Linked DNA regions of Homo sapiens: all the other regions are linked to region 1. Evidence: fine-mapped expression QTL. A gene starts in region 1. Each other region holds a variant in brackets. All regions are shown on one strand. Distances are from middle to middle.

Region 1 (2,657 bases):
TTTACAGATAAAGCTAAAATCTGGAAGCAATGTGGAATAATGGAACAAGGTTGGATTTTTGTATTGTGTCCTAGTTTAAATATGGCTTTCCGACATAGAGCTGTTTGATTATAGGTAAATTGTTCTACTTTAATTGGCTTTTGTTTACTCCTTTGTAGACGAGGGATTTCACTACCAACTTTGCAGGATTGTGATGGGGAGAGAATACGTAAAGACCCTTATCAACTATCTGGCACTTGAAGAATGGCAGATGATAATGATGATGATGTTGTAAAGAATGAATGACTTGGCCAGGTAATGGAGCTTCTGGTATTGGGAGGCAAGGCTTTAAACACACCTGCCTGACTCCACGGTCCATGCTGTCAATTCTCCAGTGTGAATGAAGTGGGCAGGCAAGGGTGAGAAACGCTAAGGTTTTTACTCAGTAAGTCTCCATCACAGGCCCTATTCTAGGCTCAGGAATGCAAAGATGATTACCATCATAGCTCTGTCCTCAAAGGTCTCCAATCTATTTAGCATTAAGCATATGTGGAGTTTCAGAAGGAACCAACGGCGAGACTGGTGAATCAATGCCCAGTGCCTCACCATACTCCCCCAGTGTATGCTCAATAGTTCGTTGAACTGTGGAGATAAGTTGGTGGGTAGGGTCTCAGAAGAATGAGAGAGGACAGGAGACACAGATTAGATGTTTAGTTTCATATTAGACTGGCTCCTCTGAGCCAGAAGTCGAGGATGAGTGAACCCGCAGTGGGAGTGAGATGACATTCTTTGTCAGCTGAGTAACCCACTTAGTGAAGGAGGTTCACGGAGTTGGAAAATCGGTAGGGGGAACGGAACGAGGCAGTGGGCTCCCATGTTAGGTTGAAAGGCAGGTGTTGGCTTGAAGCCAGTTACTGTTTACACCGCAGCTCAGCAGCTTGGAAACTGGAGCAGGAGGTGTGGCTGGGCTTACCCAACGCTGGGATTTGAGCCCAGGGTGCCTACTCCATTGCCTGGCCTACAGTTCTCAGTAAATTGTATGAGGACTACAGAAAGTTATCTGTTTTCGCCTTTGTCTTCAAGCAGGCACGGTAATGCCCCCATTTTCCAGATGAGGCAATTGAGGCCAGAAACATTAGGGGACGGTGAAGCCTAAAGCAGATTTGTTAGGACAGGCCGGCCCAAACGCACCAGGAGCGCCCCTCACTCTGGAGAGGCCACCGACTGGACAGCGTCTGCCTGTATCGCCTATCTCCAGCAAATCAGGCGCCTGGAAGAGGATCCCCGGTGGGTCTCACGGAGGGCGGCTCCGGCTTCAACCCCGCCGTTCCCAGCAGGCCATGCGGCTGCCCTCCAGACGCCCGCGTGGGCACGAGTCAGGGGTCCAGTGTTGCTAGTAATAAAAGATCAACATCCGGGCCTCGTAACTCACAACCTCCAGCGAATGCCAAGAAGGCCCCAGGGCCCTGGCGCCCCGGCAACCGCCCACGTCCGGGGGCCAGGCCTGCCCCCGCCCGCGCTGATTGGAGGGCAGCGAAAGCGCCGTCCAGCGATTGGTAGGTGGTGTCACAAAGGGGCGGGGCGCGGCGGCAGCGGAGCGTTGTCGGCCAGTGCCTTCCGTGAAGTTGCTCGCCGGGTCGTTGGGCCCTGTCGACCTGTAGGCGGGCGAGCGAGCCAGCGGACAAGACTGCGGGTGAGGCTGAGCTAGCGAGCGGCCGGCAGGGGGGGCGCCCGGGCTGCGAGCCGCTGAGCCCAGCCGCGCTGCCGCCGCCGGCCGTCGTGGGGCCGGAATGGCGCAAGGCCGGAGTGGCGCGGGCGCTCGGCGCTGGGCTGCCGGGTAGAGTCCTGTCCCCGCCCCTCGCCTTGCGGCCTGACGCCGGCCGCTGCTGCCCGGGGACCGGAGCGGCGGGCCGCCTTTGCCCAGGACACACGCTCTGGCGTTTGTTCCTTTGGGCGTGACGCCAGCTTCAACGGGTACGCGGCTTTCCCGACGGGTGCTGATCTCCGAGTCGCTGTTGTCACGCGGACTGCTGTCCTCCAGATTCAGGCCGGTGGGTCTGGGGAGCCCGGATTGGTCTTGGAGGAGCAACGGCTGCGCAGGTGACTCGGTGGCCTCAAGTGTGTAGGTACCTGGATGGCGCGAGGAGATGCTGGCTCTGAAATACTTCCCAATTCCGCTTGCAGATGAACTCCGGACTAGAGTTTAGGCTACAGACAAGTTAGGCGGTTGATGTGATTCTGTAGCTCGTATTTCGAACTTTAGGGATGTTTTGATGTATCAGTAAATGTAGATCTGTGTCACAGTTTTAATGGCAGCTTCACATTCCGGATATCTTTATGTTGGGGAAAATGTTTCAAAGGTAACTGCTCTTCTGTAGCTAAGCTTCTTTAGAGCAGAGGTTGGAGAAAATTCTGAGTTACTGAAATTACGTATTCAGCGCTATTGCCTGTTTACCTTTAACTTCCATTTCATCCTTGGAGTTGTGTTTTTAGAAACTTTTCAGAAGAAATGAGAGAAATGCTTTGGGAATTGATTTTTTTTTTTTTTTTAAGTTCTAGGGTACATGTGCACAACGTGCAGGTTTGGTACATAGCTATACATGTGCCATGTTGGTTTTCTGCACCGACTAACTCGTCATTTATATTGCGTATTTCTCTTAATGCTATCCCTCCCCCCA
Region 2 (2,657 bases), 38 kb after region 1:
GACAGGCTCATGCCACCATGCCTGGCTAATTTTTTGTATTTTTAGTAGAGACGGGGTTTCACCATGTTGGTCAGGTTGGTCTTGAACTCCTGACCTCAAGCAATCCACCTGTCTTGGCCTCCCAAAGTGCTGGGATTACAGGTATGAGTCACTGCGCCTAGACCAGTTTCAAATAAATTATAAAAGATTCCAAATAATACAAAAATGCTCTCTGATTACAATGGAATAAAATTAGAAATTAATAATAGATATGTGGAAAGCTTTCTGATATTTGAAAATAACACACTTCTAAGTAACTGATAGTCAAGAAGTCCAAAGAGAAGTAAGTATTTTTTCACTGAATAAAAATATTCTGATATTGTGATGAACTGATTTTTTAAAAATATAAAATAGTCTTGCATTGTTAGAATGAACCATTCTTGGTTGTGATGTATTTTTCATTTCTTTAGATTTAAATTATTAATATTTTCTTTAGGATTTTTGCATTACGATTTCATTCATGAGAGAAATTTTGATCTATATTTTTCTTTTCCAATATACAGTAAGGTTGAAAGAATTTTACCATGAACACTTATTTATCTAATATCTAGATTCTACCATTAAAATTTTTTAAATTTTATTTTTGTGGTAAAATACATATGTCATAAAATTATCTTAACCATCTTAAGTGTACAAACAGTTCAGTAATGTTAAGTGTATAACACAGTGTTGTGCAACCAATCTCCAGAAGTTTTTTGTCTTGTAAAATTGTCATAACGTGTCAGAATTTCCTTCCTTTTTAAGGCTGGATAATATTTCATTGTATGGCTATATACCACACTTTTTTAATCCATTCATTCCTCAATGTATACTTGGATTGCCCCCATCTTTTGGCTATTGTGAATAATGGTGCTATGAACATAAGTATACAAATATGTCTTTGAGACCCTACTTTCAATGTTTTCTTTTAGTAGTTTCATAGTTTCAGATCTTAGAGTTAAGTCTTTAGTTCATTTAGATTTGATTTTTGTATATGGTAAAAGATAAGGGGTCTAATTTCATTCTTCTGCATGTGGATCCAGTTTTCCCAACATTATTTATTGAAGAGACTATCCTTTCCCCAGTGTATGTTCTTGGCATCTTTATCAAAAATAAGTTCACTGTGGGTCTGTGGACTTGTTTCTGGGTTCTCTGTTCTTTTCCATTGGTTGTGCATCTATGTTCATGTCAGTACTGTGCTGTTTTGGTTACTGTAGCTCTGTAGTATAATTTAAAGTCACATAATTGTGATTCTTCCAGTTTTTTTTT[G/T]TTTGTTTTTTTTTTGTTTTTTTTTTTTTTTTTTGCTTAGATGGCTTTGACTATTCTGTGTCTTTTGTGGTTCCATGTAAATTTTAGGATTATTTTTTCTGTTTCTGTGAAAAATGTCATTGGTATTTTGATAGAGATTATGTTGAATTTGTAGATTGCGTTGGGCAGTATGGACATTTTAACAATATTAATTCTTCCAACTCATGAACATGGAATATTTTTTCATATTTTTGTGTCGTCCAATGTTTTATAGCTTTCATTATAGAGATCTTTCACTTTTTTAGATAAGTTTATTCCTAGGTATTTTATTTTACTTTATTTGTAGCTATTGTAAATGAGATTACTTTCTTGATTTTTTTAGATTATTGTTGGTATATAGAAATGCTACTGGGTTTTGTATGTTGATTTTGTATCCCGCAACTTTACTGAATGTGTTTATCAGTTCTAATCGTTTTTTGGTGCAGTCTTTCTGTTTTTCCAAATACAAGATCATATTATCTGCAATCAAGGATAATTTGACTTCCTTCTTTCAAATTTGTATGCCCTTTATTTCTTTCTCTTGTCTGATTTCTCCAGCTAGGACTTCTAGTACTAGTACTTCTTTTCATTTAGGGTTCCTGATGATAATTCTCTCAGCATTTGTCTGAAAACTTATTTTACCTTTTTAATTTTGAGAAATGTTTAATTCTTTTTTTTTTTTTTTGAGATGGAGTCTTGCTGTTGCCCAGGCTGGAGTGCAGTGGTGTGGTCTCGGCTCACTGCAACCTCCACCTCCTGGGTTCAAGCGATTCTCCTCCCTCAGCTTCCCGAGTAGCAGTAGCTAGGACTACAGGCATGAGCCACCATGCCCAACTAATTTTTGTATTTTTAATAGAGATGGGGTTTCACCATGTTGGCCAGAATGGTCTTGATCTCTTGACCCCGTGATCTGCCTGCCTCGGCCTCCCAAGGTGCTGGGATTACAGGCATGAGCCACCGCGCCTGGCTGAGAAATGTTTAATTATTTAGAAATGTTATAAGACTAGATTCATCAATTAATATTTTCCCACATTTGCTTTCTGTTTGGATTTTTCTTTAGCTGATCTATGTGCAAGTTAGATATCATGACACTTCCCCTAAGTACTTTATTTATTATGTATCTCCTAAGAATAAGGGCCACCTTTTACATGATTATGATACAGTTACCATACTCATTTATGATTGATACACATTATGTCATCTATATTCATATTTCCCAGGTCTTAATAATGTGCTTAATAGCATTTTATATTGTTTTTAATCTGGGATCCAATCAAGAATGATGCATTGCATTTCGTTGTAATGTTTTCATAGTCTCCTTTTATACAAAACTGTTTCTAAGCCTTATTTGG
Region 3 (2,657 bases), 34 kb after region 1:
TGTAGTCCCAGCTACTTGGGAGGCTGAGGCAGGAGAATCGCTTGAACCCGGGAGGCAGAGGTTGCAGTGAGCCGAGATTGTGCCATTGCACTCCAGCCTGGCGACAAGAGTGAGACTGTCTCAAGAAAAAAAAAATGTTTTTTGCTCCTTAAGAATAGAAAATGTTCTGATGACACCTGTGTATGAATTCTTTTTTTTTTTTTTTTTTTAGTGAGAATCTCCTCAGGATGACTAAAAATCTGTACTTCTCTCCCGTGCCAAATTTAAAAAAATTCTGATTCATGGAAATCTCATCAGCCTGTTGTCTGGGTTGCACAATTATCAGCCTTGGCTGATAAAATGAAATCAGACATTCTCATGGAAATGGATTTTGCCTCTTTGGGAATGATATGGCAGGTGTCAAAACATCTTCATTTATGATATACTGAATTCAGAGAAGCTCAGCTATACTAGATTTTCAGTAATCCTAGATCATAATATTTATTCCCATTTCATTTTTTCTTTTAAGAAGTACATTCTTTGAAATATATTTTCCTGACATTAACATTGACAAAATGGATGTAGTGTTTTATCATTAGTAACTTCTATAGATTGCTGTTTCATATAGAGCATTTTTAGTCACTGAGCAGGTATCAGAAAAATTTCAAGTAGTTATTGTTTTCTTTGCAGTGGTGGTTCTATGTATAATTCAGATACAGATGAGGATGAAGAAACTGAGCCTTCTTCTTCTGGGCAACAGATAATTGAAAATTCAATAACTATGAATAAGATGAAGCTGCTGAAGGCTAAGATGAAGAACATGAATCTCAGCAAAAAGGTGAAGCTGTTGGCATTTGACCAGGCTTATCTCTAGCTTACCCCTGCAGAGCACTCAGCAATGAGGTCTGTTGGTCATTGTGAAAAAATTATAAAGTATTATTCATTTCAGGTTTCTGGCCTCAGTTATTTATTAAACTTCTAAAAGGGATAAATTGGATTTTTTGGATTAGAAGCACACCTGAAGGGATTATACTGCACTTAACATCATTTTAAAGATCATTCTGGGTCTAAGAAGGATAAAAAAAGAGAGCTTAATCTTAATCTGGCAATAATTACTTTTTAAAATATGTTAATATTTATTTATTATGGATAAAGATATCTACTATTTAGTAGATAGTGCCAGTTTTTTCCAAAGTGATTGAACCAATTTACATTCTTTACAACAGTGAATGAGAGTTGCCATTTTCCCATATTCTTACCAGTATTTGGCATGGTCCTTTGTAATTTTTGTAATCCTACTTTGTTTGTGGTGGCATC[A/C]CATTGTGGTTTTAATTGCATTTCTCTCATGAGACCTGGAAGGTTGAGCACCTTTCATATGTTTATTGGGCATTTGGATACCCTTTTTAATAAAACACCTATATTTTTCCATTTTTCTATTGGGTTGTATGTTTTTTGTTACAGATTTTTTTTGGAGTTTTATATATATTCTAGATAAAAGTCCTTTGTTTCATATTACCACTTTATTGCTTTCCTTTTTACTCTATTAATGGCTCCCTTCCTTTTCATGTATAATAAAATTCAAAAATCTTTAATATACTACTTGACGAATTTTTACATTTATATACACTCATGTAGACACAACCCAAATTAAAATAGGACCTTTCACTCCAGAATGTTTCCTCATAATATTTCCCAGTTAATACGTACCTGTTCCTACTCTCAGAAATAACGACTGTTCTTACATCTATTACCGTAAATACGTTTTTCCTATTCCTGAAATTTATATAAATGGAATCATAGAGAGTATGGTCTGGTTTCTTTTGTTAAAAGTATTTGTTTGATTTATCCATGTGGTTGTATGTATCAGTTAATTCTTTTTTATTGTTGTGTACTATTGTACTGTGTGATTGATTTACCTCAATTTGCTTCTTTCTTTTCCTTTTGATGGACATTTGAGTTGTCTCTAGCTTTTGGCTTTTATCAATAAACTTCCTTTGAATATTCTCATACATTCTTTGGTGGACATAGCACTTGTTTCTTTGGAGCATATACCTAGCAATGGACTTTCGGAGTCAGAGGGAAGATGCACGTTTAACTTTAGTATTATGCCAGACAATTTTGCCAAGCATTTTTTGGTTTTTTTGTTTTTTTGTTTTTTGTTTTTTTTCTTTTTTGAGACAGAGTCTTGCTCTGTCACCCAGGCGCTATCTCGGCTCACTGCAAGCTCTGCCTCCCGGGTTCACGCCATTGTCCTGCCTCAGCCTCCTGAGTAGCTGAGACCACAGGCGCCCGCCACTACGCCGGGCTAATTTTTTTTTTTTTTTTTGTATTTTTAGTAGAGACGGGGTTTCACCGTATTAGCCAAGTTGGTCTCGATCTCCTGACCTCATGATCTGACTGCCTCGACCTCCCAAAGTGCTGGGATTACAGACATGAGCCACCGCGCCCGGCCAATTTTGCCAAGCATTTGAACCAATTTACATTCTTCCCAGCAACGTGAGAGTTCTAGTTTATGCCACATTCTTGTCAACACTTGATATTGTCAGTCCTTTTAATTTTAACCATTCTGGTGACTGTGTAAATGGTTTTCTTTTATATTTCTCTAATGAGGAATAATATTGACTTTTCATATGATTATTGACCATTAAGATACGTTTTTTATGTGAAGTGCCTGTTCA

What was found. PIP is the estimated chance that this variant, and not a neighbour inherited with it, causes the effect. A credible set is the group of variants that fine-mapping cannot tell apart.
Region 2: its variant is the best candidate, but not a certain one, in a credible set for the expression of ZFAND4 in whole blood (INTERVAL, PIP 0.89).
Region 3: its variant is the best candidate, but not a certain one, in a credible set for the expression of ZFAND4 in whole blood (INTERVAL, PIP 0.73).

Annotation. Positions count from the first base shown.
Region 1 is chr10:45,671,694-45,674,350 of GRCh38, reverse strand. It overlaps ZFAND4 (zinc finger AN1-type containing 4), which reads left to right and starts at 1,579. Exons shown (of 10, transcript NM_174890.4): 1 at 1,579-2,101. RefSeq lists a silencer at 1,277-1,996.
Region 2 is chr10:45,633,860-45,636,516 of GRCh38, reverse strand. All of the region lies in intron 6 of ZFAND4 (zinc finger AN1-type containing 4), which reads left to right. Among named protein-coding and RNA genes, the nearest start is that of ZFAND4, 38 kb to the left of the region's middle. The variant G/T (reference allele first, on the strand shown) is at 1,288.
Region 3 is chr10:45,637,976-45,640,632 of GRCh38, reverse strand. It overlaps ZFAND4 (zinc finger AN1-type containing 4), which reads left to right. Exons shown (of 10, transcript NM_174890.4): 6 at 670-817. Among named protein-coding and RNA genes, the nearest start is that of ZFAND4, 33 kb to the left of the region's middle. The variant A/C (reference allele first, on the strand shown) is at 1,297.